4 linked regions of the Homo sapiens genome follow. The protein of the gene in region 2 binds, or shares a complex with, the protein of the main gene of each other region. Each region holds a gene or a part of one and is shown on either strand. Other genes may lie near its edges.

Region 1 (7,673 bases), on a different chromosome or scaffold from region 2:
TAGCTGGGCGCGGTAGCTCACGCCTGTAATAATCCCAGCACTTTGGAAGGCCAAGGTGGGCGGATCACCTGCGGTCAGGAGTTTGAGACCAGACTGGCCAATATGGCAAAACCCCATCTCTACTAAAAGTACAAAAATTAGCCGAGCATGGTGGTGGGCGCCTGTAATCCCAACTACTCAGGAGGCTGAGGCAGGAGAATTATTTGAACCTGGGAGGTGGAGGTTGCAGTGAGCCAAGATCGCGCCATTGCACTCCAGCCTGGGCAACAGGAGCGAAACTTCATCTCAAAACAACAACAACAACAACAACAAAAAGGAAACAGGATACATTTTCCTGTTATTTTTAAAATAGATTTATCGAGGCATAACTGGCATACAACACGGTGCATACACTGGAAGTATACAATCTGATAAATTTTGGCATATACATATACCTGATGAAGTGCAATTAATCAATCTGTTCTTTCATGGATCATGCTTTCAGTGTCTTATTTAAGAAATCTTTTCCAATCTCAAGATTAGAAGATTTTATGTCTTCCTGTAAGAATTTTACGGTTTGATCATTTCACATTTGGCTGTATGTACTGCTTTGAGTTAATTTGTATATGATATAAGTGATGATTCAAAGTTCATTTATTTTTCATATGAATATGAATTTTCCCAGAATCATATGTTAAAAAGACTGTCATTTTTAATGATTTTTTTTTTTACCTTTGCAAAAATCAGTTGTCCAAATATGAGTGAGTCTATTTCTGGATTCTTTATTCTGTCCATCAACCTATTTTTGTAACTTGTTGCCAAAATCACGTTGTAGTAATATAGTTGTTTATGTATAGTATCCAAAATAATACACAAAACATTATAAATAATAATTCAACAGTTTATAACTATAAGATTAATATACAGAAATGCATTCCTTTATTTTAGTACCACTCCAAGAGAGAAAAAAATTACATAAAAAAAGTAATTTCCAATAGCAACAAAACTACAAAGTACATAAGAACATCGAATACAATATATTTAAGAGTTTTAAAGGGAAACTTATAAAACTTTATTGGGAGATTTAAAGGACCTACTTAAGTGGGTGTATGTCTGATATTTTAAATGGGAAGATTTGATAAAATGAAGACAGCAGTGTTGTCAAATTAATCTATAAACTCCTATCCAAAATCTCAAAGGGTTTTTCATAGAATTTATCAGAATGATCCTAAAACCTAAATGAAAAAAATAAAGACAAAAACCTGCAAAACAAGTTGAATATGTTTATCAGGATGTACTATCCCTACTACTAGGTATCAATACTTACTACAAATGTATAATTATTAAATCAGTATGGCAGTGGCGTAGAAAAAAATGAACTAATAAATAGAGTGTGGAAACAGGACCACATGTAAATTAAAGCTTGGTATATAATCAAAGTGGCATTAAAAATCACAAGGAAAGAATGGCCAACTATAAAAAGTGTTCAGACAAATGACAATACACAGGGAATGATATATTCAGCCTTTCTCTTATATCATACACAAAATATATATCTGGTTGGATTAATTATCTAAATAGAATAGTAATGATGTTGAATAAAACACAGAATTTCTCAATACATTGAAGTAGAAGGAGGTTCCTTAAATAAGGCACAAAAAGGACAAGCCAGAAAAAAAAAATTTGTCAAATGTGATTGCATGCATATTCTCAATTTCTTTGTAGGAAACACACACATCCGTGCACACACACACACTAAACAAAGTGATTATACAAGGCAAAAACTGGGCAGATACCTGCAATACACACACACACACACACACACACACACACACACACACACATATATATATGGCTATACCTGCTATATATATATATATAGAGAGAGAGAGAGAGAGAGAGAGCTAATAGAGGTTTTGCTTTTGGAATACATGGAGAACCATGTATCAATAAGAAAACAACAGTCTATTTGAAAAGTGTGCAAAAGATGTGAATGAGCAATTTGCTCAAATATCCAATAAACATAAAAAAGATGTTTGACATTATTAGCAATTAATGACTTCCAGAGCAGCAACATATAAAGTGGAAGAAATAAGCCAAAGAACAGGAAAAGATGTTTATGAGCTGAAAATAACTGATTGTGAATTTTAGGGAAGCTTGAATACCCCCATCAGTAGAGTCAATGTTAATAAATTCTAAACTATCACTGTTAATGGCCTTATAATGTTTTTTCCTATATGTTGGTAAGCGCTGGAGAAACTCTACTTATACATGTAGAGTTCATGAGTGAAAATTAAAACTATTATCAGGACCATTTTCAAAATAAGGAATACATTAAAAATATTTGCAATGATAAAGCCATCCAAATGCCCCCATCCTACTGATGAAAGCAAGGAAGGACACTACCTTTGTTGAATATCTACTGTGACAATCAGCTTGGATGATTCCTACTTTTCTACTTGTCCATAAGAAGCTAATCTTCCTATAACCCTCTTATATAATAACAATCACATTTTAATCACATTTTATGTGATTGACTCAGTTTTTTCTCTGAAGTTATGTTGCCTTATAAATGAAAAACTTGCATTTTACTTCATAATATCTGTTAACTTAAAAAATGCTTGTATTTGCTATTGGCATAAAAGTCAGCCTTACAAATAGGCTGATAGACAAACCCCAAAGGAAGCCGAAGCTTAAGGAACACCAGCTCAGAGACACCAGAGGACATGGCTAAAGTGAATAAAAGAGAAATGAACCCATCCTTTCAGAGCTGATGTCCATGTTTGCAGGTTCAGGTTCTCAGAGGTGTGCACAGCATGGCTGGCCTTTCCTCAGTTGTCTTTTTCAGCAGAGAAACGGTTAAGTCTCTCGTCTCTAACCCAGCTCCTCTATGGTGCTTACCTCCTGATCCCTGGGGCGATCAGCAAACCGGGTCTGCCACCTTCTTTTCAGAGAGCTTAACTAGCAGAGGACTCAGGAGAGCATGCCCAAATAACCTAGGTGACTTTCAAAGCTACAAAGACTCTGACACTTCTGGACGGCTTCACATGTACCCCTAATAAACACTTCCCTTCACCCCCAGGCCCAGTGTGGGTAGGAGTGACAACTGGAGCTCTAATTGGCTGAGCTGGTTTGGGTTCTCACTAGCAGCCACAGAAGAAAATGTCTATAGAAACTTGTATCTGAGTCATGCCACATAGGAACTACACTGATTGGAAACAGAAAGTGGCCTAGAAACTGTAAAAAATGACCGCAGATGACTTCTTGATACACTTTGTGACTAAGGGGCCTGGTGATGACATTTTTCTGGTATAAACAAGCACACTGATCTCAGAGGGTATCTAAAAGTGTTGCCAGTAGGGCAGTGCAGGTTCTTGTCTTCAAAGCATAAGAGAATCTGAAAATGAGACCCAAGCGAAAGTATAGACATTTTATTGTGGAGCAAAACCAACGACACCCTCAAGGGAGGAGTGCAGGCACTCAAAGATTTGAGTCACAGGCAATGTGGTTCACGTACTATATGAATAAGCACAATGAAGGTATGGAGTACTCTGTAATCAAGGGGAGGGGTTTTCTGGGAAATGGGCGGGCAATTCCCGGAATCGGGGTGCCACCCTTTTCTTGACTAAAGATGGTTAATCCGGAACTGTCATGGCGTCAGGTGCATGATGGGAGTGGGAATTTCCCCATGGAAGTTTTATGATATTAAGGGCATAATGAAGCTAAGGGTCAGCAGTCAGCCAAGTTTTCGACCATCTTGGCTTTAACCAGTTGCGGCCAGTTTCTTCTGTGTTACATTCTCATCTGTGCCTAAGTAGGAAGTTTGCAATCTGTCTTCATTGTCACAGGCTGTTGTAACAGTTCCTATCTACTAGTGGGGCAATCCCTCTGCTAACCTTTTTGACCGCATTTTTATTGCTTGTAGCCACCTGCAAGTAATCATGCCTCATTCCCTCACTGACTGCTTGCCTCAAAAGCATATATACAGTCTTTCTTCCTAACCCAGGCTCCTAACCCTAAATTCAGAGCTTGAGGGCTTGATTCTAGTCAGCAATTTACTTGAGGTTTTCCTTTCTTATTCATTGAATTAACAATTATGCACTGAACATCTAATATGATGTATTAGATTCTGAGAATATAAAAGTTAGTAAGACAAAGTTCCAGATGTTGAGCGGCTCTGCCAAGTCATGAAAACAGACATGTGATTTAATAATCACAATAGGACATGATGATAAGTGTTATAATTAAAGCATGCTCAAGATGCTCAAGGAGCAGAGGAAGAGCACCTAACCATGCCCAGGTAATCAGCCCAGAGCTGCAGGACCTCCTTCACTTTCTACTGCAAGGCTTGTTTCTACACTTTTGCCAGCTTTCAGCTCAAATAGCACCTTATCTGTGGGGCTTCTCTGACCAGCATGTTCTCTACCTCTTCCCCACATTATCTTTTCCCACACGTGTTACTGACCATCATCTGACATACGGTATATGTCATTTGTTTGTTTATTCTCTGCCTCATGCTCCTAAAATGTAAGGCACATGAGGGAAGAGATTTCTGCCCACTGGCTCACTGCATCCACTTCACCTGACACAGTGCCAGGCACAGAGAAGGTGTTCAGAAAATATTCGTTGAATGAGTGAATGCATGAATGAGTGGATCACACAAGGCGAAAGAACACCAAAGAGAACAATATGTAAGAATTAAAAAGATGTGAAGTGTATGAATTTGGTAACCTACTGAGTAAACGAGAGAAAGCTCCCTGTTGAGGAAGAACCCAACAAGCACCAACCCCAGAGAGGCGTACTGATTTGAGGCTTCAGGTCCTGTAAAAGGTGAGTTAAGTGATTAAGCTGGGAAGTGGTCTCAATGAGGAGCAGGTACACTGCTGCACCTGGGGCAGAGAGACAAGTACTCATCGTCCAGCTTTGTTTTACCAAGAAATTTAATCAGAGAGATACCCAACTTGGTGACACAAGACACAGAAGGGAAAGGAGGCAACTGTGCTGAAAAAGGAGGTTTGTTAACAGTCTCACGGAGAAAAGTGGGATCCCCAAGCCCTTTCCTCCCTGACTTCTAGAGTACTGACAGCAAGGTTTATGCCATAAGCAGAAGACTGGAGGCTCCTACTGTAGCAACTGGCCCAAGAAGGGAAAAACTCTCACCGTTACTGACATTTTGAGTTTTCCAATACAAAGACTCAGGCCCTTTCGTGCCAATCCTATAATTAAACTAACTCATAAATAAACCAGGCCAACGCAAAAAGAATTCAAGTCAGTTTTGTGTGTATACATGTATGGACATTTCTTTCTTAAATATGAGTAAACAGACATAAATAACATTCAGAAAAGCCTCCAACTTAAAAAAAAAACAGAAAACAAATCAGAAGAAGGAACTTAAGGACAAAGCAGAGGGTAGAAGAAGAAATATATATGGTCATCAGAGAGATAAGAAAAGACATTGCATCCATGAAACAAAAAGACAGTGCTAATACTTGTAAAAAATGAACAAATTACAGAAGAGATTTTATAAATATATTTTCTAAATGTGATAGCAGAAAAGTTTTAAAGCTAATAGAGTGATAAAGCTGAAGATCTCTTTCTAAAAGTATGCCTAGAAAAGAATAAAATGGAAAAACAGGAGAGAAAAAAAATAAGAAATATACAGGTTTATGCCCCGATGAATAATAACCAGCTAATAAGCATTTAAACAAGAGCGAATGGAGAAAAAAGCAAGTTATCAAATAAATACCGAATTTGATGAATGAGAAAGAACACACACAAAAGCATGTCACTTTGCATTTTTTTTCCAGTTTTTTTCTTTTTAGTAGACTTTATTTTTTAAAGCAGTTTTAGGCTCACAGTAAAATTGAGCTGAAGGTACAGGTTTCCATATACCCTTTTCCCTCACACATGCACAGCCTCCCCATTATCAACATTCCCACCAGGGTGGACTGAGCATGACACATCATTATCACCCAGACTCCAGAGTTGCCACTAGGGTACACTTGGTGTTGTACATTCTGTGGGTTTGGACAAATGTATAATGAGTATCCACCCTCACAGTATCATACAGGGTGGTTTCCCTGCCCTAAAATCCTCTGTGCTCTGTCTAGTCATCTCTCTCCCGACAAATCCTGGCAACCACTGATCTTTTTACTGTCTCTATAGTTTTGCTGTTTCTGGAATTTCATATAGTTGAAGTCATACAGTATATAGCCTTTTCAGATTGTCTTCTTTCACTTGGTAATCTGCATTTAAGATTCCTCCATGGTTTTTCATGGCTTGATGGCTCATTTCTTTTTAGCACTAAAAAATATTCCATTGTCTCCATTTATCTGTTTATCCATTCACCTACTGAAGAACACGTTGGTTGCTTCCAAGTTTTGGCAATTACGAATAAACCTTCTATAAATATCTGTGTGCATGTTTTTATGTGGACTTAATTTTTCAACTTTGGGTAAATATCAAGGAATGCAATTGCTGTGTTGTATAATAAGATATAATAAGAGTATGTTTAGTCTTGTAAGAAACCACTAATTGGTTTTTAATACAATGATTTGGTCAATAAATGTTTATGAGCAAACGAAAGGTATCTAATAAGTACTGCATTGAACAGTTTTAAGAATAAGGAGAAAATCTATGACTCTGAAGACTTTCATATCTTGTCCATAGATTTCTTAAAAAGGTATACTTTAGAAATACATCATATAAAGAATTGTTCAGACTTGTTTAGTGATGCCTCAATTTCAGAACTTTTGTAAAGAAATCACAAGTAAAAGCAAACACCTCAATGCAATTAAATGCTAATTTTAAAAAATGTATCCTTTAAACAGTGGTTTCCAAACTTTAGCATGCATTAGAATTTCCTGGGGGAAGCTTGTGAAAAATACGGATTTTAGGCCTCACCCCCAGCATTTCTGACAGGTTCCTGGGTGATTCTGATGCTGTTGGTCTTGACACAACACTTAGAGAACCACTGCTTTAATATCTAATCTCTGGCATTTAAACTAATAAGCAATGTCCATATGCCTTTGCATTTTCTAATAGTAAATAAACAAAAGAACAGTTCTGATATGCCTTCAACAAACTTTAAATCTTCAGACTCTTGAAATGTTTTACTTAAGTGGAATAGAACCTATAACTTATTCATCTTGGCTCACAGTGATTCCCATGAGTTCAAAAGACAGAGCCACAGGCCAGTCTAATACTAGATAATCTATGACTTCATGAAAGCATTTGTTCACAAAATACATAACTATTAGGGTACAGGGACCTTGCTTTTATCTTCTCCATGCATCTTCTCTACAGAAAATTCAATAAGAAATTATGAAGATTTTTATACTCATAATGATAACTCAACTTATCATGAATGTACACATAAATATCACAGTGAATCATCATACTCAAGACTCAGATTCAGGAACTTCATCATCAGGGCAACAGTAATATTCCACAAAAGATATTTGCCCCCCTTCATTCTAAAAATATACCATAATGAAAGAAATCCTGTTATTTGTGTGAATAAAATACCTTACAAGATAGGACTAACGTTTTTGTAAAGGGGATTAGCAAAGAAATAAAATCTGTTGACCTGGGTCTGATTACAATGAAATGCTTGCACCACATAAAAATCTTTGGAAGTCAAATTGCAAACTTTCTAAATTTTCAAAAGTAGATAACCTGAAATAATGCTTGTC
Region 2 (7,566 bases):
AGCTTCTGGGCCGGCAGCAGTGGCAGAGACTGTGGGTCAAAGGGAGAGAGGCCTGGAGCCAGGAGCAGCTGGACAGTGGCCGGGAACCCTGACCCCCAGCCTGGTTCACCCTCCTCCCCAGATCTCCCACCAGTGGCCCACACCATCCCAGGAGCACAGCCTGTGCCTGCCCGCCACACCTCCACCCGCCACACCTCCGCTCGTGCTGTTGTGCTGTCTGGGAAGCGTCTTTCTGCTCCACTGATCCCGCAGTGGGTCTGCCCCACTGATCCCGCCCGGCTGATCTGGACGTCAGTGTCTTCCTCTGGGATTCAGCTCCTCTCTCCTCTGCTGCCTGCTTCCCACTGCACTGGAACACTGGCCCCCACTTTTGGTTGAAATCTTATGGGGGCTCCCAGCCTGGCCCCAGCTCCTGCCATCTGGCTCTGCCCTTTCCCACCCAAACTTCTGAAGAATCATCCACACTGAGTCCCGCCCCCTCCACCCCCGAGACCTCTTCTGCTCCCTGGCCCCCAGAAACCACCCCCTCAAGGTTACCACGATCCCTCTCGCTGAACCCCACAGATGCTTCCCTGGTCTCACCAGCCTGGCCCCTCTCTGGAGACTCCTTTCCCGGGGCCTCTGCTTTCCTCCTCCCTCTCTGGCTTCTCTGCTGGTTCTTCTCCCCCAGCCCATCTCTGCATTCCCAGTGTGGGGGAGGCCTCTGCCTGGGGCCCTCTGGTCACTGCAGCCACAGCTCCTAGTACGGCACCTGTCTTCCATCCTCCCTAAACACCATTCCAGTCTCAAACCATCACCCTGCTCCAGTTGGCCCAGCCTCTGCTTCTCTGCTCATTTTACAAATGAGGAAACTGAGGTTTCCTGCAGTGGGTCGTAGGGGATGGGGATCCAGAGTGCTAGCTTTATTTTATTCATTTATTTATTGAGATGGAGTCTCACTCTGTCACCCAGACTGGAGTGCAGTGGTGCGATCTCCGTTTACTGCAACCTCTGCCTCCCAGGTTCAAGCAATTCTCCTACCTCAGCCTTCCGAGTGGCTAGGACTACAGGCGCAAGCCACCATGCCCGGTTAATTTTTTTTTTTTTTTTTTTTGTATTTTTGATAGAGACGTTTTACCATATTGGTCAGGCTGGTCTCGAACTCCTGACCTCAGGTGATCCACCCGCTTTGGCTTCCCAAAGTGCTACGATTACAGGTGTGAGCTCCCGCGCCCAGCCTAGAGTGCTAGCTTTAAAAGCCCCACCTGCTCTACTCTGGTTCAGCTGCCTGGTGGAAGGAAAGGAATTTCCCATCATGCTTCTCTTCCCAAAAAGATTCTGGCTCCAGTTCCTTCCAGTGAGGACCCACGGGGTGGCAGAGTTGGGTCTGGCCTCTAGATCCCAGTTACCTGGGGGGCTGCCAGGGGGGATGTGGGCAGGGCCCTCGGACGGGACGCCGTGGAGCCTCATCTCATTGCTGTGTCCCAGCTGCACCCGTCTCAGTATGGACTGCTCCATGTGGATGTCCTGGGGCCCCCAGGGATCAACTAGGGTCCCCCAAGTTGAGGAATCACCTGGTGCCATTGAAGGGAGGTGGCGTGGACCGGCGGAACCTGGCAGGGGACAGTGGCACAGCCTCACCGGAGATTACTGCAGGCTTCTTCCTTTCCCTCACCACCACACGCAGGCCTGTCCTCTGAATTCTTCCTGGACACCATCGAACTGGCGGCCAAAGACTTCAGGCTCTGGCTTAGAGAGCAAGAGGACCTGGCGGAATAGCTCATTTTGGGGCTCCCTGAGTTCTCAGGAGCGGGGCTGGTCCTGGGTGTTGCAGGGACACTCACAAACCCAAACAATGAGCTCCTTGTTCTGATTCCCAGTCACTCCCGAGCCTTCTGACCTCATGGGGACCAAGTCTCGTTTGGTGCCAACACCAAAGGCTCAGAGCCTCCCGCAGTGTTTTAACTGCCAGGGACAACATTTATTTTTATGGTGTTTTTCATGATTTACACTTAAAATAATACTATAAAATTGTTTTAAAATAAATTTTTAAAAAGGTGCACTACTCAACAACATTAATTAAATAATCAGACATGGGTATGGCCAGAATCAGGAAGGTGGGGCTCAGAAGATTAAAGCTAGGGAAACCATGATCTAGATTCTAGAACAAGGTTCCTCATTTCACAACTGAGGCTGACAGTGGGGAAAGGTTCTCCCAAGGTTACAGGGAGTGTCCCGACTTTGGGGCTGATGCTGTCACTCACAGGTGACAAGGCTGGGCTGACAGGTGGCTCTGTCCCCTCTTGCCACAGTGCCCGGCACAGGGTAAGTGCTCAAAGTGCAACACCGCATTTCATCCAAACTAGGATGCCACAGGTGGTGAGATGCACCCCAGTTTCCAGCCTGTTAAAATGTGGGGGAAAGTAGCGTGTCTCAGAACAAATACGGTACTACAATAACCTCCCCTGTAGCATTCCGCGGAGGGAAAGGCAATTGAGTTGTTTCTCATGAAAAACACCGGACCCCATTGAAAATGAGGCATAAGGTCAGGCGCAACACAGAGATACCCCATCTTAATTTTAAAATTTTATTAGAAAAATAAAAATTAAATTAAACTTTAAAATGAGGTAGAAAGTATCAGAGTACAGGGAAATCAGGAGAGCTTTGATCCAGGTGTCCTCATTCTCAGGACGGCCGTAAAGGTGGACTGTGGGGGTCTGGAAGCAACCCTTTCCCCTTGGAGGGCAGAATCCCCCCACTCCCCATCCCTACCCTTTGCCCCCACCCAGAGGATCCGGTGGCTCCCCACCGAGGTCCCCTCCCTGGGCTCTCTTGGGTGACTTACCGTCCTCCCTGGAGACTGTCTGTCTTGTAATGATGTTCCCGTGTCCAATCTGGATGGCTTCGGAGTTTGCAATGGAAATCCAGCTGTTGGGTCCATTCTGGCAGATCATGTTGATTGGATTGTGCTGGTAAATAATTGAGGCTGACTTTGCTCTTCTTCCAGAATCTTCTGCAAAATAATATTCAACTGTATCCCTTTGCCACTGTCTATGGGTCAGGGGTTCCCAATACCAGTCGGCAGCACCAAATTCTCCTGGGGAGCTTGTTAAAATACCCTGGGCGTTCCGAGTCAGTAGGGCCAAGTGGGAGGCCAGAGCTGGGTGTTTAACAGACACCACAGGTACCTCAGAGGGAGCCTCACTTGAAAATAGCCACTGTGAGTCACCCTACCTGTGTCTTTTGCTGCCTCCATGGCTGGGCCGCCATGATTGCTGGCTGGGAGGACCGCAGGGGCCCCACACTGCTCTCCCTAGGGGGCAGCCACAGCCCGGACCCCCGAGCACCTGCACCATTGCCCTTTTCCCTTGAGTAATGGCCGAGAAACAGCAGCCCATTGGGCCAGATCGGTCGTGTTTGGCTCCCATGACATTTTCAATATTTGAATTTGTCACTAGTGTTTAAAATCTGGTGGCTGTCACGCGTTATTCCTTCCTCACAGCAGCCCTAGGATGCTGAGACCCCCTCGGGCACCCGTCATGAGTAGCAGAGTCAGCCCTGCAGAGGTTGAGGCAGGCACCTGCCCAGACTGTGCGGGGCCCATCACCACCCTCCAGGGTCTCAGCTCCTGTGCCTTTGTGGGCCCTTCCCCCATACACAAATATTTAAATTACATTGTATAGCAAGGATAACCCAGGCTGGATTTTTAAATTTTATTTTATTTTATTTTTTGGGGGACAGAGTTTTGCTTTTGTTGCCCAGGCTGGAGTGCAATGGCGCGATCTCAGCTCAGTGCAACCTCTGCCTCCTAGGTTCAAGCTATTCTCTTACCTCAGCCTCCCGAGTAGCTGGGATTACAGGCGCCCACCACCACACCTGGCTAATTTTTGTATTTTTAGTAGAGACGGGGTTTCGCCATGTTGGCCAGACTGGTCACTCCTGACCTCAGGTGATCTGCCCGCCTCAGCCTCCCAAAGTGCTAGGATTACAGGCGTGAGCAACCGTGCCTGGCCCATTTTTAGATATTCATTATTATTGTAGTATTCATTTCCTCTGATTTTAAATGAAATTAAAATTAAAACATTTTCAAGGACCCCTGAGAATGCCATGCACCTATTGGATCTTGGCCCTGTGTGTGTTAGGTCTCACGGGGAAGCTGACCCTGCGCTGACCCTGGGGCTCCAGCCGGTAGGGGTCCAAGACTAGTCTTGCCTTCTCTTCTGCCAACTTTTAAACCCCAACTTGAGCAAAGTGCTCAAAGAAAACCATTCCCAAACTCAGACTGATCCCTGCACCCCAGAGCTGAGAACATTGGGAATGGGCCACCTCCGTCCCATTCACTGGCCTTCTGCAACTGCAGACCTTGGGCCACGCCTCCAAAAAGCTGTCCCTGGTTAATCTTGCCAGCACACCCCTTCCTCCTGGAAGCCCTTGCAGTGAATTGTCGGTAGGACCTCCAGAAGCTTCTAGCAGTTTCCGGTGAGCTGCTCAGCAGAGCACCCAGCAAAGACCAAGCACTAGTGTCATGGTTTCCCTCTGCAGCCCAGACACAGGCAGCCGGGGGCCTACCTGGGCGGTAAATCGTCCATGCTTTGGACTGCTCATCCATGTCCAGAAGGTGCCTGCTCTTCATCCTGTACAAGTCTCGGTTCACATCTTTTGCTGTCCTCATTCCCAGTGCTTGGGCGATGACCAGGGCCCTCTGGGGACCATTGTCTTTGAGAAACCTGTAGATGTCTTCCTCTGGGAGGCAGGATGGCCAGGTGGTTAGGGAGTAGTCCTAGGGTTTGCATCTGCCCCACCGCTTCCTAGCTGTGTGGCCCTGGACCCAGCCCCTCAAGGCCTGGTTTCCTCATCTGTAAAATGGGTGTCATGATAACGGGGTCATCATGACGCACCGCAGAGGTGCCCTGAGGGTGGGGGATGTGCACAGAGTGCTCTGCGCTGGGCCTGGCATGTGGCGGGTGCATGGTGAGGGTCAGCTATTGTCTGACTGGAGAAATCACTGCTCAGCCATTCAGATTCTCCCACTGTGAGGGCTGGGTCTTGGCTCTGAACACTGTATGGGAGCTGCCTGGTGGGTGGGACAGGGCCCCTGAACACTGGTGAGATCTTGTACCCTCAAGGAGGGCCTGGGGTTCCTGGGGAGTGGGATCCTGTGTCCCGGGAACTGAAGGGACATGCAAAAACTTACCCCGTTGTTGGCTGAACTGAGGGCCAGGGGTCTCTGGAATTGTAGCTGCATGTTGCTGGGGCCTCTCGGCTGCAGAAAGAAAGATGGGTCAGAGGGGTGGGGGACAGAAGACAGCACCAGGCCTCCACCCCACAAAGGTGGGCAGCTCCCTAGGGGTAAGTGGCAATGCCGGTAGTTGCAAACTCAGACTCCAGAGTTCAACACACTTGACTTCAAATCCTGCCTGCGCCCTGGCAGCTGCGGCTTCCTGCCGATTAACTTCTCCGGGGCTCAGCCTCCTTTGCCTCCTGGGGTTGTGTGAGGGCTGGGTGAACCCCAAAACAGTGCCTGGCTAATCTTAAGTGCATGATAAATGGCAGCTCCTTCTGGCTGTGGGCTGTAAAGCTAGAAAAGGGGGGCTGGTGGGACTGCATATGTTCTGTGATTGGGACCATGGCGTCATTGCTGTCTCCATCATGATGATTTTCTATTATAATTGTTAGTGTTCTGCAGAGTACCTCCTGTGTGCAGGGCTGGGCTGAGCCTGACGCAGGGCCTCCTCTCAGCAACCCCTACCAAGCAGCCCTGCTGTGAGCTCCATCAACCAGAAAAAGAAACCAAGGCACAGAGAGAGGAAACCTGTGAGCTCCCATGTGGCAGAGTTCAGATTCGAACCCAGGCTCAAATCTGTGCTTGTCCATTGCCAGGATGCTCCCTGCAGGGTCAGACCCGCCTCCCCGGGGTGGCAGTTACCAGGGCTGGACAAGGCCAGCTCTGCAGGACCCTCGCCTTCAGGATCAGTCCCGCCCAAGCACCAGGTGGCAGGGGATGTGAGGGAGACTTTCAACTCCTTTTTCATTCGGTAGAGGACTTGGTTGAGCTCCCTCTTGGGTGCTTGGCATTCCTTCACCAGCTGGGCAAGTTTCACCGGGGAGCCAGCCTCTGTCAGCACCTGCAGGATTCTTTGTTCAAGGTGGCCTGGGGGAGCGAGCGGGGGACAGAGAGGGGAACTGAGTCTCCCAGGTCCCCACAGTTGAGCCCAGGCTGGAGGCTCCAGGAGGCACGTAGGCCCCTTTTTGAGAGGGGTCCAGGGCAGAGGAAAGGGCAAGGACCCCAGCAGATGCCCCCTAAGAGCAGTAGGGCAGCTGCATCTGCCCAGAGGGAGGCATGCAGGCTGATCAGAAACGGCCTTGGCTGCGCAGCCTGGTGGCCAGGGGAGGTGCCACCTCGCCTGTGCCCTCCCCGGGTGTGGGTTCCAGAGGGCAGTGGGGTTCCTCAGCTCTCAGGTGTCCTCAGGGCAGAGGGGAGTAGAGGGCAGAAGGACGGAGCCAGAGGGAGGCAGGGGGACCTGGGAGCGCAAAGGCAAGTCCTGCCTGGGACGCCTGCCTGGGTTTACCTGATGCCCATCGCCATCCTCCCCGGGAGTGCCCTCCTCTCAGCTCACCATCCATCCATGGCGCCACTATCCATCCAAGCCAGAGACCGACCAGACATCAGAAACAGACCTTTCCCCCAGTGCCCAGTCGTGGAGCCCTGGAAATGCCATTCCTGGATTCTCTGGAATCCCCCCACTCCTCTCTTTTCTGCCAGCACCACCCCCTTCCTCTTCACCATCTCCTAGGTACAGTGATAGGCTCCCCGTTGGCCCGCCAGCTCCAGTCAGGTACCCTCCAGATCTGGCTCTGCCAACCACCCAGCTTGGCCTGCACCTGCCCCCAACTTCCCTCCAAGTGCTGGCCTGTCTGTGCTCCCTTCAGCCCCACTCTCCCCAGCCCCTTTGTGCACACTGTTCCTGCTGCCAGGAGCACCCTTCCCTCACGCCCCAACCTGTATGATGTCTACTCAACCTCCAGGCCTCCTCAGATGCCACTTCCTAGGGAAAGCCTGTCTCTGTGTCCCAGAGTGGCTGGGACGCTGCTTGTGTGTGGGTCCCCTGCAGAACTTCCCCTAGTGTCCCCTGCTGTGCTTGCATGGCTCACTGTTGTACCTTCAGCATCTAGCACAGTGCTGGGCACACAGTAGGTGCTCAGGAAATGGCAGTTGAATGTATGAGTGACTGAGTGAATGAATGAATGAATGAATGGGGCCAGGAGTGGTGGCTCACACTTGTAATCCTAGCACATCAGAAGGCTGAGATGGGAGGACCCCTAGAGGCCAGGAGTTCTAGACCAGCCTGGGCAACATAGTGAGACCCCCATCTCTACAAAAAAAGAGAAAAATCAGGTAGGTACGATGGCATATGCCTGTAGTCCCAGCTGCTTAAGAGGCTAAAAGTGGGAGGATCGCTTGAATCTAGGAGGTAGCAGTTGCAGTGAGCTATGAATGCACCACTGCACTCCAGCCTGGACAAGACCCCATCTCTGGAAAAAAAAAAAAAAAGGACTGAATGAGTGAGTGTCTGTCTCTAGGGACAG
Region 3 (7,391 bases), on a different chromosome or scaffold from region 2:
ACACATTGTTATAAGGCTAAAGGTCCCTCCCCTAAAAGAAGATGGCCAGGGTTTTGTGTCCATGCGATGTAGGAAGAAGCATGCTGGGGACAGCGCCTGCACATATGGAACCCTGCCCTGGGCCTGCTTACCTATCTCCCTTCCCCTCCCTGGACTCTAAAATCGCCCTGCCTCCCATCCCTGGCAAGCAGACGCCTGCAGAGGTGAGCTCCCCTTCTCCATTCTTTGGCCACTGATAACACCTGATTGCCTTTTTCAATCGGACATTCTTTCTTTCTTTTTTTTTCCCCCCAAAATGTTTAAGAGACAGGGTCTTGCTCTGTTGCCCAGGCCGGAGTGCAGTGGCACATCCTCAGCTCACTGCAGCCTGGAACTCCCTGGCTCAAGCAATCCTCCTGCCTCAGCTTCCTGAGTGGCTAGAATTACAGGCGTGTGCCACCATACCCAGCTAATTTTTTTTTTAGTTTTGTAGAAGTGGAGTCTGGCTACGTTGCTCAGGCTGGTGTGCAGTGGCATGATCTCAGCTCACTGTAGCCTGGAACTCCGTCTGCTCAAGTGAACCCGAGCAGCTGGGACTACAGGCGCGTGCCACTATTGTATTTTGTAGAGATGGGGTCTCACTGTGTTGCCTAGGCTAGTATGGAACTCCTGGGGTCAAGAGATCCTCCCGTGCAGGCCTCTCAAAGCTCTGGGATTACAGGCGAGAGCTACCACGCCCTGCCCAACCTTTGGGTTTTTATTTTTTTAATTTCGTTTATAGAGATGGCGGGGGTCTCACTACATTCACCAGGCTGGTCTCAAAGTCTTGGCCTCCAGCAATCCTCCCGCCCTGGCCTCCCAAAGCGCTGGGATTACAGGCATGAGCTATCGTGCCCGGCCAGCCATTCTTTCTCTGCAGCCGATATAAAGTAGGAAAGAACACAATTTACCGGTGACCGAATGTTCTGGATTTCCAGGGCCTTCCTTCAGGTCCGCAGATGCCCCTCCATCCGGAGTGGGCCTTGCCCGGGGTTCTGTTGCCGAGTCCAGATTCGCAGCTGTCTTTTCCTCTAGAGTCAGGAGAATTTCTGGATTTGCGGGCGCCTTCTCCCCTGTAGAAATGGTGACCTCAAGGCTTCTAGGTCGCATCTTTCCCGAGGGCAGGTACACTTCGAAGGGCCTGCACTCCTTCTGCCCCGGGGCGCCCCCCGCCAGCCCCTGCAGCCTCCCCGCGGAGCTGGCGTTTCTGCGCAGCCGGACCTCGGCCTGGCCCCCCTCTAGCGCCCTGCAGGGGCCGGGGCTTCTCCCGCCCGGCAGGGCCGGGCTCCGGGTCCGAGGCTTGCCCTGCGCGTCCAGGCCCTCCGAGGCCTTCTCTCTGCGTTTGCTCAGGGGCTTCCTCGACAGCCCCCTCCCGGCCTCGGGCTGGCTGCACCGCAGGCTGGCAGCTCCGCCCCCGTACGGCCGAGGGCCGTTCCCCTCGTTCCCCTCGGGGTGGTCTGGAGTCTTCAGGCTCCTGGGCTTGTTCTCCCCCAGGGAGCTGGACGCTGCGGAATCATCTGTGCCGTTTTCTTGTGTGGAATATTCTGGAAGGACAACCAGATGCAAAATGATGAAGCTGTCCCACGTTTAGGGCCCAAGATTCAGGGCAGAGGAGAGAGAATCCCCTTGGATATTAAAGTTTAGAAATTGAGGAAAACAACGGGCCGGGCGCGGTGGCTCATGCCTGTATTCCCGGCACTCTGGGAGGCCGAGGCGGGAGGATCACCTGAGATCAGGAGTTCAAGACCAACAGGGTGAAACCCCGTCTCTACTAAAAATACAAAAATAAGCTGAGCGTGGTGGCGCATGCCTGTAATCCCAGCTTCTCCAGAGGCCAAGGTGGGAGGATCATTTGAGGTCAGGAGTTCGAGACCAGCCTGGCCAACATGGCAAAACCCCGTTCCTACTAAAAATAAGAAACTCAGCCAGACGCGGTGGTGCGCACCTGTAGTCCCAGCTACTCGGGAGGCTGAGGCATGAGAATCGCTTGAGCCCGGGATGTGGAGGTTGCAGTGAGCTGAGATCGGGCCACTGCACTCCAGCCTGAGTGACAGAGCAAGACTCCATCTCAAAAACAAAAGTTCAGGACTTCCTAGACTAGACAATGGCAGTCAATTACCATTCAGTAAGAACATGCTTGATGTTGCTATGTATTTCTCTCTCTCTTATTTTATTTTTTGAGACAGGATCTTGCTCTGTTGCCCTGATGTGATCTCAGCTCACTGCAACCTCTGCCTCCCAGGCTCAAGCAATCCTCTCACCTCAGCCTGTTTTCTGTTTTTTCAATAGCTGAAAATACAGGTGTGTGCTACCACGCCTGGCTCATTTTTTTGTATTTTTGGTAGAGACAGGGTTTCACCATGTTGCCCAAGCTGGTCTCAAACTCCTGAGCTCTAGCAATCCACCCACCTTAGCCTCCCAAAGTGCTGAGATTATTTATAAGTGTGAGCCACCATGCCTAGCCTATATTTCTCAAATAGTACTTTTCAAACGTTTTAAGCAGGACAACTGTTTCAAATAAGATCTTACACAGGTCAGCAAAACCCAGATTATACGCTTTAAAAATAAAAATAAGCCGGGCACGGTGGCCTATGTCTGAAATCCCAGCACTTTGGGAGGCTGAGGCGGGAGGATCACTTGAGGTCAGGAGTTCGAGACCAGCCTGGCCAACATGGTGAACAGCACTGAGAAGATTCTATACCAACCCCGTTCATATGATTGCATAGCAATCCCTTTTTGCTAACCTAGAGATGTTTGTCTGACATGAGTATTAATCATAAATGTAGTGAAGAAGTCTCAAAGAACAGGTGTTCCAGCTCCTGCCTTTCGTGACCCTGACCTGCTTCTTAAAAAACCCATTAGGAGCCTGAAGGAAGTTTACTAACCCAGTTCCAAAGGCCAGAGTGAAGAAAGGGACGTTCCTGAACTAAAGTCATCTGGATTTTGGTAGACCTGAGACTCCCAATCCCCAGGTCAGAGTGAGCTGCTCTGAGCTCCTGGTCCCCTTTCCCACAAAGCAGCCAGCACTCAGCACTGGATGAGGAGGAGGCCTGGGCCCGCTTACCCTGAATGGCTGCCCTGTGGAGCTCCTCGGCCAGCAGGCGCTGGTTGATGGCCCGCAGGACCTGCAGGGTGAGCTGCACGGCGTACTCTTCCCCATAGTAGGTGACCAGCAGAGTGGCCATCTTCACCGGCCTGGCTCTCTGGATCTGGCTCCGGGGGATCCTGGAGTGCTCCTTCTGCACACTGGTGTTCTGCAGCTTGAACTTGAACTTCTCGAAGTCATAGGGCACCAGCTCCTCCAGGGTGGACAGCAGATGGTCACTAGGGGTCTTAGCCATGGTGCTGAGCAGGAGAGGCTCGAGCCAGCTGTCTGGCTTCTGGTAGGAAAAGAAGCCTCTGTCCTTGGTGAGCAAGAAAAGGCAGGTTGTGAAATAGCGGAAAAGGCACAGGAAATGCTCTGTGTCTTGGTGGGAACTGAGACTAAGGGTAAGGGTGTGTCCATGCCGGCTGTGTTCTCTTCTTACAGGTTCAGAGGATTTTCCAGCTGGGAGGGCTCCATGCCTTGGCAGACATGTGCCCCCACACCCCTCCCAAACCCTGGACCTCGCCTCCACACTAGACCACAGACAGATGGGCAAGTCTGCAAGGGAAGGTCTGGGATTGGATTCCAGACACCCCCTCCAATCTTCCTTCCTGCCAGGATCTGGGGCTGGCAGAGCGGGTGAGTGGGAACAGAGAGGACTATGCTGAGGGCCCGCCCTGCTGGTCAACTGTTCTCCTCCAGACTCGGGGTTTCAGGGACCTTCCAGAGCCAATGGCACAGGACGGGGGAAGGGGTGGGCACTGAATACAGTCCTGTGAGCTTTGCCTTTCCTGGCCCAAGAAGGCAAGTGAGGCCAGAAGGGCACTGCCAGGAGATAACTCTTGCCATGCCATCACCCCTGTTGATCCGGTTCCAGTTGACTGGTTCTTCCAGCCACATGAAGGACTTGAAAAGCAATGCCTGGACCACCAGCCTGACTCATCTGTTCCCAGAGCTGACTCAGTCCTCGCTCCCTGGAGCCAGAATGCTCTTCCGTGCACATTCATTGAACATTCTAGACAGTGTGCCAAGATGCTGGAGCTACACGGGTGAAAAGGCACGGGTGTCCTTCAGCTCATATGTGGTGCAGGGCCCCAGAGGTGGCTTTGAAGCTAACAGAAGTTACATGTTGGGGGCAGGGCACAGTGGCTAACGCCTGTAATCCCAGCACTTTGGGAGGCCGAGGTGGGTGGATCACCTCAGGTTGGGAGTACAAGACCAGCCTGGCCAACACAGTAAAACCCCATCTCTACTAAAAATACAAAAATTAGCCAGGCATGGTGGCACGCACCTGTACTCCCAGCTACTCAGGAGGCTGAGGCAGGAGAATCACTTGAACATGGGAGGCAGATGTTGCAGTGAGCCGAGGTTGCGCCATTGTACTCCAGCTTGGGCGACAGAGCGGGACTTTGTCTCAAAAAAAATAAATAAATGAAAAATTACATGTAGGGTGAACTGACTCCTCACTTACCTACTTCTGACCGTTGCATACCCTAATTTTTTTATTTTTAGATAGGGTCTTGCTCAGTCACTCAGGCTGGAGTGCAGTAGTGGGATCTTGGCTCACTGCAACTTCTGCCTCCTGGGCTTGAGCAACCCTCCAACCTCAGCCTCCCAAGTAGCTGAGACTACAGGTGCATTCCACCACATCTGGCCAATTTTTGTATTTTTTATAGAGACAGGGTCTCACTATGTTGCGCAGGCTGGTCTTGAACTCCTGATCTCAAGCGATCCACTCGCTTTGGCCTCCCAAAGTGCTGGGATTACAGGTGTGAGCCACTGCGCCCGGCCAGAAGTTTTGTTAATAATGCAATTTACCCTTCACCAGCACTTCCTCGGCACCAGCCACCACTAGCTTTATAAACACTTCCTCCTAGAATCTCTGCAGCACCCTGCAGGGCTGCGTTTATCATCCCCCTGTGCAGCCAAGAATCTGTAGCTTAGTGACTTGCCTAGAGCCAAGATCCAAACGTCAAACCACTTCACAACATCGTCTCCTGCATGACAATAATTTGTGATTTTACTGTTAATGACTACCCATGGATGTCACATTTCCAGCTGACCACTGAGGTCCAGGATGGGTCACTTCCACAGGTCAGTCACAACATTGCGACGCCTAGCTGAACACCCAGCTCTGGGTGTGAGCTCCTCTGTGTGTGCCCAGCCTGGGATTCAAGGCTTTGATGAGTTCTGGTTGGTTGAATTTAACTTACTGTCCAGCTGGTCCACCTGTTTCCTATTTCACAGAGTATTTGGTGTTTTTGCATTGTTTTCATAGCTGACAACAAACATGCAGTTTGCTAGATCTTTCTGAGCCCAAACCCAACATCTTCCCTAAAAAAAGGGTGAATTGGGCTGGGTGTAGTGGCTCACACCTGCAATCCCAGCCCTTGGGAGGCTGAGACAGGAGGATTACTTAAGCCCAAGAGTTTGAGATTAGCCTGGGCAACATAAGGAGACCCTGCCTCTACAAAAAATAGAAAAAATATTAGCTGGGTGTGGTGGCACACACTGGTGGTCCCTGCTGCTACTCAGGAGGCTGAGGTGGGAAGATTGCTTGAGCCTAGGTTCAGGCTGCAATGAGCTGTGATTGCACCACTGCTCTCCAGCCTGGGTGACACAGCAAGACACCCTGTCTCAAAAAAAAAAAAAAAAAAAAAAAAAAAAAGTGGATGAAATGCACATTGATGGTGCAGACAGCAGATTTTTGGAATTTTTAGGCTGGGCCAGAAGAAGGGTGTTGAATGGGGTATCACTGGGGCCAGCACCCGTCCCTGACTCTGGACGGTGGCAACCCAGCACCTCCCAGGCAGTCTCCCACTACCAGATGGAGAAAGGATGAGACTGTGCAGTGACGCTGTGGGTGCTGTGTGATCCCATCTCGTCTGGTCAGAAAACTCCTCGGAGCTGATACCAAAACCCCATGACAGAATTGGGCAGGGAATGATACTTTCTGGTCTAAAGCAGGATATTTTGCAATTGCGGTGACACGTTTTGCAACAGAGGCTGCTCTGAGGCAGGACTTCTGGAAGGCAGTGTTTTGATGCCACTTTGGACTTTCTAGGGCAAGGCAGGCTCACAAAGCTTTTGTTTGGAGGGGTTCCAGTAATTTCTCACAGTGAAAATAGAATTATTGCCCTTCTAACGTCATTTAAGTGTTTAATAATCAAAGTGGAATGGTCATGGGCTGTCTTGTGTGCCCCTGCCATTGGATGTGTGACCTTATTTGGGGTGACATGGCAAATCTAAACCCAACAAAGCTGCTGCAAAGGGTCTACTCTCGGCTATTACTCCTGGGAAATGTGCGGCTCAGACACCACGACCTTCACTCCACTCCTGGTCACCAGGGGTTTCACTTTCTATGGCATTTACTTCTGCACATTTTGGGATTTAAAAAAATGAAGATTGTATTACTTTCGTAATAAGCAAAAAAGATAGTTTTAAAAAGTCTTTCAGACCAGGTGTGGTGGCGCACGCCTGTAATTTCAACACTTTGGAAGGCCGAGACAGGTGGATCACTTGAGGTCAGGAGTTCCAGACCAGCCTGGCCAACACGGCAAAACCTCGTCTCTAATGAAAATACAAAAATTAGCCAGGTGAGGTGGCCCGCGCCTGTAATCCCAGGTACTCCGGAGGCTGAGGTAGAACTGCTTGAACCTGGGAGGTGGAGGTTTCAGTGAGTCGAGATTGCATCACTGCACTCCAGGTTGGGCAACAGAGCAAGATTCCGTATTTAAAAAAAAAAAAAGTCTTTCACAATTAGCTTAACTTCTAAGGGAGTATCAGTCCCGTGCCCCTAAACCATCATGATAAAGGAGGTATATAGTATTTACTTATTTATTTACTTGATTTATTTTGAGACAGAGTCTCACTCTTATCACCTGGGCTGGAGTGCAGTGGCAAGATCATGGCCCACTGCAACCTCCGCCTCCCGGGTTCAAGCGATTCTCCTGCCTCTGCCTCCCGAGTAGCTGGCATTACAGGTGCCCGCCATTACACCCAGCTAATTTTTTGTATTTTTAGTAGAGACGGGGTTTCACCATGTTGGCCAGGCTGGTCTTGAACTCCTGACCTTGTGATTCGCCCGCCTCAGCCTCCCAAAGTTCTGGGATTACAGGCGTGCGCCACCGTGACCAGCCAACTATTTTTTCATAGATGATGAAATGTAGGCTTACAGGTAGGGTGACCAACACATTTTGTCTAGGAGCAAAACCCAATTTGCCCAGTCTTAGCACTGAAAGCCTAGTTCTGGGAACGACCACAGTCCGGGGAAATTGGGACAATTGCC
Region 4 (7,566 bases), on a different chromosome or scaffold from region 2:
TTCACAGAGACAGAAAGTAGGATAGGGGCTGCCAGGGGCAGGGAGAGAGACGATGGAAAGTGAATGTACTATGGGACTGTACTTACTGCCCCTGAACAGTGCACTTGAAAACAGTTACAATGTTAAATTTCATGTTACGTATATTTAAACCCAAGTTAAAAAGTTAATTACAAAAAAAGGAAACAAGAAGGCCTTATGTGCCATCATGCTTTTGAGAGAGAGGGCTTCTTTGCACTGAATAACATGTTTGAAATCTAGAAAATCAGTTTAAAACCACAAGTCAAGTCGAACTCAGTTTTCTGAGGATTCAAACCAAGTTCCTAACAATATGTTACTAGGAAAATCACCACACAGGATGCATCCTACACAGTCAGAAAAGATGCTCTTACCAGGAAATGTCGGCCGAGCTTCCGGATTCGCTTCCCAGCAGAGCTTCATGAGACTGATAATTTCTCTTGGGCAGTACTCAGTGATGTCATCCACATCTGGCCTGTTCCCAGATTTTATGCACATTATCAACTGCTGCTCACAGATAGCATCTACAAAGCAAAGACTTTCTTTCAGGTCTTGCTCCTCTCTCAGGCAGGAAGGTGACAGAACTTGAACAATACTGCTCATTTTTCTCAGCCTCTGGTACAGCTGCCTCATTCCATAGAGTGGAATGGCCTTATGACAAGGAGCTGACATATTCCACTACAGAGATGACCAAACAATATCTTAATGTCTGCAGATAAAACAAAATTCTCGACAAAGCTGCCTGCTGATGGAACAAAAAGATTATGTGGGCAAGGCCAATGGCATGCTCCATGTGCAAAAGCAAATACAGGGCAGTCCTTGTCTTTAGGAGCTCAGTTTAATGAGAGTGACTTAAAACACAGAGTGATCATTGCTATTCAAGAAGGCTGAGGCTGGGCATGGTGGATCACACCTGTAATCCCAGCACTTTGGGAGGTTGAGACAGGCGGATCATGACGTCAAGAGATCAAGACCATCCTGGCCAACATGGTGAAACCCCGTCTCTACTAAAAATATAAAAATTAGCTGGGCATGGTGGTGTGCACCTGTAGTCCCAGCTACTCGGGAGGCTGAGGCAGAAGAATTGCTTGAACCTGGGAGGTGGAGGCTGCAGTGAGCCGAGACTGCACCACTGCACTCCAACCTGGCGACAGAATGAGACTCTGTCTCACGGGAAAAAAAAAAAAAAAAGGATGTACAAGGGGTTCCAGTAGCACAAACCTGACTAAAAAGGTCCAGGAAGGCTTTGTTGAGTCCAGAAAAATTAGCAGGTAAAGAATGGGAAAGGGAGACTTAAGGAGGAGGACTCCAGGAAGAGAAGCAGGATATCAACAGACTAGAAGTTACAGAGATCATGACGCATCCCACAAATTCCTCAGTGTAACTGCACACTGACAAAGAAGGGAGGGTTAGGGACGAGGCCAGTAGAGAAGCAAAGGCCAGAACATGAAGGCCTTTTATTCCACGCTGAGGAATTCGAACTTCATCCTGAAGACCACAGAGCATCTGGGAAGGATTTCCAATATGTGAGGGAGAGGGTTGCATGTGCCTTTTAGGACGACCATTTTGGCTGCCACATGAATGGTGGACGGTGGAAGGAGCCTGCTGCAGAAACGAGGAGGGTTTGAACTGAGCAGAGGCCAGTGGAGACAGAGAAAGGCAGATGGGTTGCAGATATATCTTGAGTCATACATATATCTTGAATTCACAGGTTTTGAGATCTGATAGAATGTGGGAGAGAGGGGCAAGGGCGAGTCTGGGATGACTCTGAAGTTTCTTATTGGGCAACAACTTGGTAAAAGGATGGCGATGCCACTTCCCAAGCATATGAAGAGGGGTGAAGCGGGGCGAGCTGCAGGACAGTGTCGACAGGATGTGTTTGGGGGATGCTGCTTTGGAGGTTCCTCTGGTACCTGCGATGGATCTGACTGTAAGACAAGTGGATATCCATTCCAGAGCCAGAGACACAGATTTAAGAAGCATTTGCAAAGAGATGATCATCAAACCATGGGAGCTGATGATCACCCAAGAAGAGTATGTAGGACAACATCCATCAGTTTATGCACTTAACAAACTGCAGAGTGTCTCTATCCTACACAAGCCACGACTTACTCATCTTTATATTCCCAATGCCGACTCAAGTGCCCACAGTAGGGACTGAAAAGAAATAATTCTTGAATGAAGGAGCAAGTGAATGAGTGAAAGTATGAAGTGTATGCCTTGTAGTGTGAAAGGCTAAGTCCTCACAAGCAGAAACAATCAACTTTCCTGTCTAGGAAGAACCCTGGAATTTCACAGCACCTCTCCAGCTAATGACACACTATCGAGGTTCCTATTCATCCTATGATCACTGATTCCTAAATGGGATTACTCATTCATTCAACAAAAATTTACTGGGCACCTATTAGTTCCAGGCACAGTGCGTGTAGATGCTGAGGGGACGGCAGTGGAAAGTAAGTAATGCCTTACTTTCATATGGCTCCTTATTTGCAAATATCGCCCAGAGTACTACAGCAAAGCTGTACACATCCGACTTCTCTGTGGGCTTTGCGTTGACGTCATTCAGGTGCTCGGGCGCCATGTAGTAGAGGGTGCCGCCATTCTTCTTAGCGGTGCCGTCCACTTCCCTCAGCTCATTGTGCTCTTCATTATTCAGTTTGCTCCACATCTTAAAGGAGGCAAGGCCGAGGTCTGCGATCTGCGAAAGACATTGAGCCACTGGGATTGTTTGGTGAAGGCCGTAAGCAAATCAGATCTGACTTTCAATTTTGGGCTTATCCATTATACATAAGGTACGGTAAATTTTCCAGAAATGGTTGCACTGGGCAGGTTCAAAACAGCGACTTCTCAACAGACTCATAGAAACTGTGTGTCTCCTCAGCCATTTGTAAAATGTCGCCCAGGAAACGTTCACATGAAATTCTGGTATCGTATTCCTTATGCAGTAAGGGGGAGGGGAAAAGCGGAAGATGTTTCTGACAAGAACAGTAACAACCAAACATATTTATTCTCATTCCCCATTGACTCTGCGTATGTTTTTCAACTATTTCTAGGGCTTGGGGGGAAAATGGTTATTTTCTTCTCTGCACATTTATGCAGCAGACAGTGGCTAAATACTACACCTTCTATTTCCCCAAATGGCGTCCAGAGGCCCATGGATGCAAGTGTCCAAGGATCCCAAAGACACACTGAGGATAAGGACTGCAGTGTTGCTTGTTTTGAGCTGTAGCCTGAACCTAAGAGGAGATAGGGTGGAAAGGAGGAGAAAAACAGACAAAAAAGCAGAGAGAAAAATAGCAAGGTCAGACACAGAACAAGAACAGTGCTGGCAGGGCAAAATGACAGGGCAGCACAGTTCAGAAGAGAATATAGGTGCCAGTTCCACTTCTGCCTCCAGGAATCCAAGCAAGCATGTGGGGATGAACTGTGGCACATGAGTACCTAAAATTCACAGATTCTAACCCACGACATAAGAGGGAAGTCATGAATTTGAAGATAGGTTATGAATAAGGAATTTTTATTCCCAGCCCTTTGTCCAAGACTAGGACAAAGCGCTAGACGCAGAACCTGCTGGTGATGAGAGGCCCCTGTGTCAGCAGCTCCTGGGTGCCTCCCCCAGGGCTGCTTCCCCTTCCGCTTCCCCTTTTGGATTCTTGTGCTTGGATTCCTGCTGCAGAAGCCAATTAGATATGACACTCCCCCTAGCTAAATCCTGCCCTTGAATGAACAAAAGAAAAATCCCTTTCCCTTGTTCCCTTTACGACAATGGAAAGAATGTGTTCAAAGGAAACTGATTTTTAAAATACAGACAGAAGTAAACAATCGAATACAAATATAAAACAAAATTTCAAAGTAGAGGTTTTTGATGCACTGCTGATTTTTTTTTTTTTTTTTTTTTTTTTTTTTTTTTTTTTTTTTTTTTAAGGCAGAGTTTCGCTCTTGTTGCCCAGGCTGGAGTGCGATGGCACAATCTCGGCTCACCACAACCTCCACCTCCCCGGTTCAGGCGATTCTCCTGCCCCAGCCTCCCGAGTAGCTGGAATTACAGGCATGCACCACCACGCCCGGCTGATTTTGTATTTTCAGTAGAGATGGGGTTTCTCCATGTTGGTCAGGCTGGTCTCGAACTCCCGACCTCAGGTGATCCGCCCACCTCAGCCTCCCAAAGTGCTGAGATAACAGGCGTGGGCCACTGCACCCGGCCGCTGATCTCACTCTTAGGCCATATCTGAACTCTAAGGATTTTCCGCACACACCTTCACATTCCCCTGCATTTCCAGAGGAGGAGAGTCTTGGTGACACAGATTTCCTGGAGAACATTATGACACCAATGGCCCATTCCAGGATGAAAAGGGCAACCCTTGAATGTTTCTAAATGTTTCTAACAGAGGAAAAAACACAGTCTAGGAAAGAGGTCTTCTCATCTACCCCATTCAACTCCACTCCTCCCCCAAAAGATATGAGTTATCCTGACAGTTATCTCCTGATCCCATCAAGCCTGCAGCCTTCCTCTCAATCACCGGTAGAGCCTTTCGGCACCATCATCAACAGTTATAAGCTGAGCTAGGTCTTCCTTTAGCTTCTCCAATGTACGAGAATGGATTTACATTGGAGAATTAAAACTAAAATCACCCAACTTTCTGGAAGCCTACCGATGATGGTTTACCTTAATGTGGAAGTCATTATCAACAAGGATATTTTCAGGCTTCAGGTCCTTGTGTATCACGCCTTTTCCATGTAAGTAGCACATTCCTTCAATGATTTCCAAAATTATCCTTCCTTTTACAGAAAGCGGAGTACTCATCTAAAACAAGTGATATTAAGTCTATGAAATGGAAAGGTTATCAAATAGGCCAAAGCAACTGTTTCATGAAAGGGTGGTGGGATCTGAGCCTGAGGAGAAGGTTACCAGGTTTCCTTCCAGCAGGTGCACCACAGTACTGCTGTCACTGGGAAACAAGAAAGATTTCATTCGGGGGGGGGCAGAGGGTATTCGTGTTGTATTTTGTTAGTGTAAAAACAAAAATCCCACAATAATTTGGTAATGCATAAAATACTATAAAATTAAGCTCCTTGAGAACAAAAATATATATTATTTAGGACTGTATCTTTAGAACCTAGGATTGTACCTGGAATGCTTGTTGAATGAATGGATGAATAAATATACGAGCAAGCAGTTTCTGTGGGATACTCACACGACATCATACTAAGTTTACATTAAGGACATGAACAATGCCATGCAAATGTCGCGTGTAAAATAACATTAAGAGAAAAAAGAATACAAGGGAACATGTTCACACTGATTACAATCATAGAAAAATCTGAGATAAACATGATGTTAAAACTACGCTTAAGTGAATTAATATCTATTTGATGACCTGGTAGCAGATACTTCAGGCTTCTGTAGAGTCTCAGGTCACTGGTTCTTATAATTGTATTCTTGTTATGTGAGCATCAATACTAACAGAAACAATTCCAGTTTCTATTATAGTGGTTAAATTACAGTTTTGCTTAACAATAAAAAATCAGTATACAAACAAGATGTTTCCTAAAAATGTATATGTATTTTGGTCGTTGGTTAACAGGAAAAAAATTTTAATGATAGAAGTGAGATTCCCCCTCAAACCATATTTATGACATAACGTAGCAGAGCTACACTGTTAATAGCTTGATCACCACCATACAGAAAGTAGCAGAAAAGATGTTTTCTCTTCTTCCTTGGTATACCTTTGGACTTAGGAAAAACTTCTGAGTAAGCAAAGTTGGTCCCCCTCTCTCCTCTCTTTCTGCTTCTCTCTCAGGTCCTCCTGATGCCCTGACTGAGTCCAAACAGGTGCACCTGAACTTTCCCTCATCTTGCACAATGCCTCATGTCCCCAATGATTTCTCTCTCATCTCAGAAGCTAAGCAGGGTTGGGCCTGGTTAGTACTTGGATGGGAGACCAAAGACTTATTTCCCAATCAAAATGTTTACTTCAAACAGCTGATCTTCTCTAGTTCTGGGGTGGAGAGCAATCTGATCAAACTATAATACCATGCGTATAAGTGATCACCTCTTCTCCTTCCCAAGGGTATTTTTGTGAGATGTCTGTTGGCTTGGCAATTGTGGGGTGGGAGAAGAAAGTGGAAAAGTGGGAGTATTTGCCATAAAGGCAGCCATATCCCGCCACCCCTCCCCATACCCTGTGCAATCTATGCTCTAGCCAAACCCAGGAATTTACAGTTCCCCAAATTTGGCAGTCTCTACATGGTATTCTCTCTGCCTAGAACACTTGTTCTCTAATTCTCTGCTTCAAAACGTCTACATGTCCTTCACATTGGAAGCCTTTTCTGTCTATTCCAGGCTGAGTGGGTGCCTCTCATGTGTACTCCCTCAGCAATGAGTATGTCTATCAAAACACCATCAGCTGGGAACGGTGGCTCATGCCTGTAATCCCAGAACTTCGGGAGGCCAAGGCAGTCGGATCACGAGGTCAGGAGTTCGAGACCAGCCTGACCAACATGGTGAAAACTTGTCTCTACTAAAAATTAAAAAAATAGCCAGGCATGGTGGTAGGCGCCTGTAATCCCAGCTACTCAAGAGGCTGAGGCAGGAGAGTTGCTTGAACCAGGGAGGTGGAGGTTGCAGTGAGCCGAGATTGCACCATTGCACTCCAGCCTGGGCGACAGAGCGAGACTCCTCTAAAAAAAAAAATACCACCACACAGCTGGGTGCAGTGGCTCATGCCCATAGTCCCAGCTACTCAGGAGGCTGAGGTGAGAGGATCATTTAAGGCCAGGAGTTCAAGCCTGCAGTGCACTATGATTGTGCCACTGCACTCCAGCCTGGGCAACACAGTGAGACCTTGTTCTCTTACAAAAGAAAAAAAAAAAACCCCATCACACCATACCACTTATTTAGCTATCTGCCTCCTTTTACTCTCCTACGTCATATTAGCTATTGATTCATGAGCAACTAGCGCAAGGCCTTCATCTTAACAGGCACATAAGCTTTTAAAAATGTTTTCAAATCATTTGACTTTGGTAAACAATTTTTATTTTTGTTTTAAATCCTATCCAGTGTTGTTGCCAATAATTTCTATATTTAATTTAAAATAAAACTTTGTTGAATGGTATCAAAGTGCAACCACTAATATTCTATCTGCTCTCACGGTCATTTATAGTGTATATCCTTTCATTAATCCATATTTAATGTCATCCCATCATGCATATACTCTACATCAGATGATGTCTGCATCATGAAGACAGGGCTTGTCTCTGAACTGTAGATTGCAGAGCAGCGGACAGGTATGGTAAACAGCCAATCACATTCCTAAGACACAGACTATGGAGGACTGTCCACAGGATCGAGAGGATGAAGAGACCACTCTCAGGGCAGTAAAAGGCAAGGAAGATTTTCTCTTTTTTTCAGAGACAGGGTCTTGCTCTGTTCACATGCACCTTTTATTTTTTGTAGAGAGGGGATTTCACTGTGTTATCCAGGCTGGTCTTGAGCACCAAGGCTCAAGTGATCCTCCTGCCAAAAGTGCTGAGATTACAGAAGTGACCCAC

What was found.
Region 1: ZBP1 (region 2) and AIM2 share a complex: the UniProt entries of both Homo sapiens proteins name them as parts of the AIM2 PANoptosome complex.
Region 3: ZBP1 (region 2) and MEFV share a complex: the UniProt entries of both Homo sapiens proteins name them as parts of the AIM2 PANoptosome complex.
Region 4: ZBP1 (region 2) and RIPK1 share a complex: the UniProt entries of both Homo sapiens proteins name them as parts of the AIM2 PANoptosome complex.

The regions. Positions count from the first base shown.
Region 1 is NC_000001.11:159,073,753-159,081,425, forward strand, and holds the start of AIM2 (interferon-inducible protein AIM2), read right to left. Parts: upstream 3,015-7,673; 5' UTR 2,881-3,014; intron 2,875-2,880; exon of another isoform or gene 435-2,874; intron 1-434. UniProt on the Homo sapiens protein: Sensor component of the AIM2 inflammasome, which mediates inflammasome activation in response to the presence of double-stranded DNA (dsDNA) in the cytosol, leading to subsequent pyroptosis.
Region 2 is NC_000020.11:57,610,339-57,617,904, forward strand, and holds part of ZBP1 (Z-DNA-binding protein 1), read right to left. Parts: intron 6,131-7,566; coding exon 5,906-6,130; intron 5,243-5,905; coding exon 5,174-5,242; intron 4,723-5,173; coding exon 4,549-4,722; intron 2,993-4,548; coding exon 2,825-2,992; coding exon of another isoform or gene 2,748-2,824; exon of another isoform or gene 2,553-2,747; intron 1,747-2,552; coding exon of another isoform or gene 1,730-1,746; exon of another isoform or gene 1,593-1,729; coding exon 1,389-1,592; intron 358-1,388; coding exon of another isoform or gene 195-357; intron 30-194; coding exon 1-29.
Region 3 is NC_000016.10:3,253,229-3,260,619, forward strand, and holds the start of MEFV (pyrin), read right to left. Parts: upstream 3,406-7,391; 5' UTR 3,360-3,405; coding exon 3,083-3,359; intron 1,563-3,082; coding exon 930-1,562; intron 1-929. UniProt on the Homo sapiens protein: Involved in the regulation of innate immunity and the inflammatory response in response to IFNG/IFN-gamma.
Region 4 is NC_000006.12:3,078,232-3,085,797, reverse strand, and holds part of RIPK1 (receptor-interacting serine/threonine-protein kinase 1), read right to left. Parts: intron 4,820-7,566; coding exon 4,682-4,819; intron 3,864-4,681; exon of another isoform or gene 3,138-3,863; intron 2,714-3,137; coding exon 2,485-2,713; intron 540-2,484; coding exon 390-539; intron 1-389. UniProt on the Homo sapiens protein: Serine-threonine kinase which is a key regulator of TNF-mediated apoptosis, necroptosis and inflammatory pathways.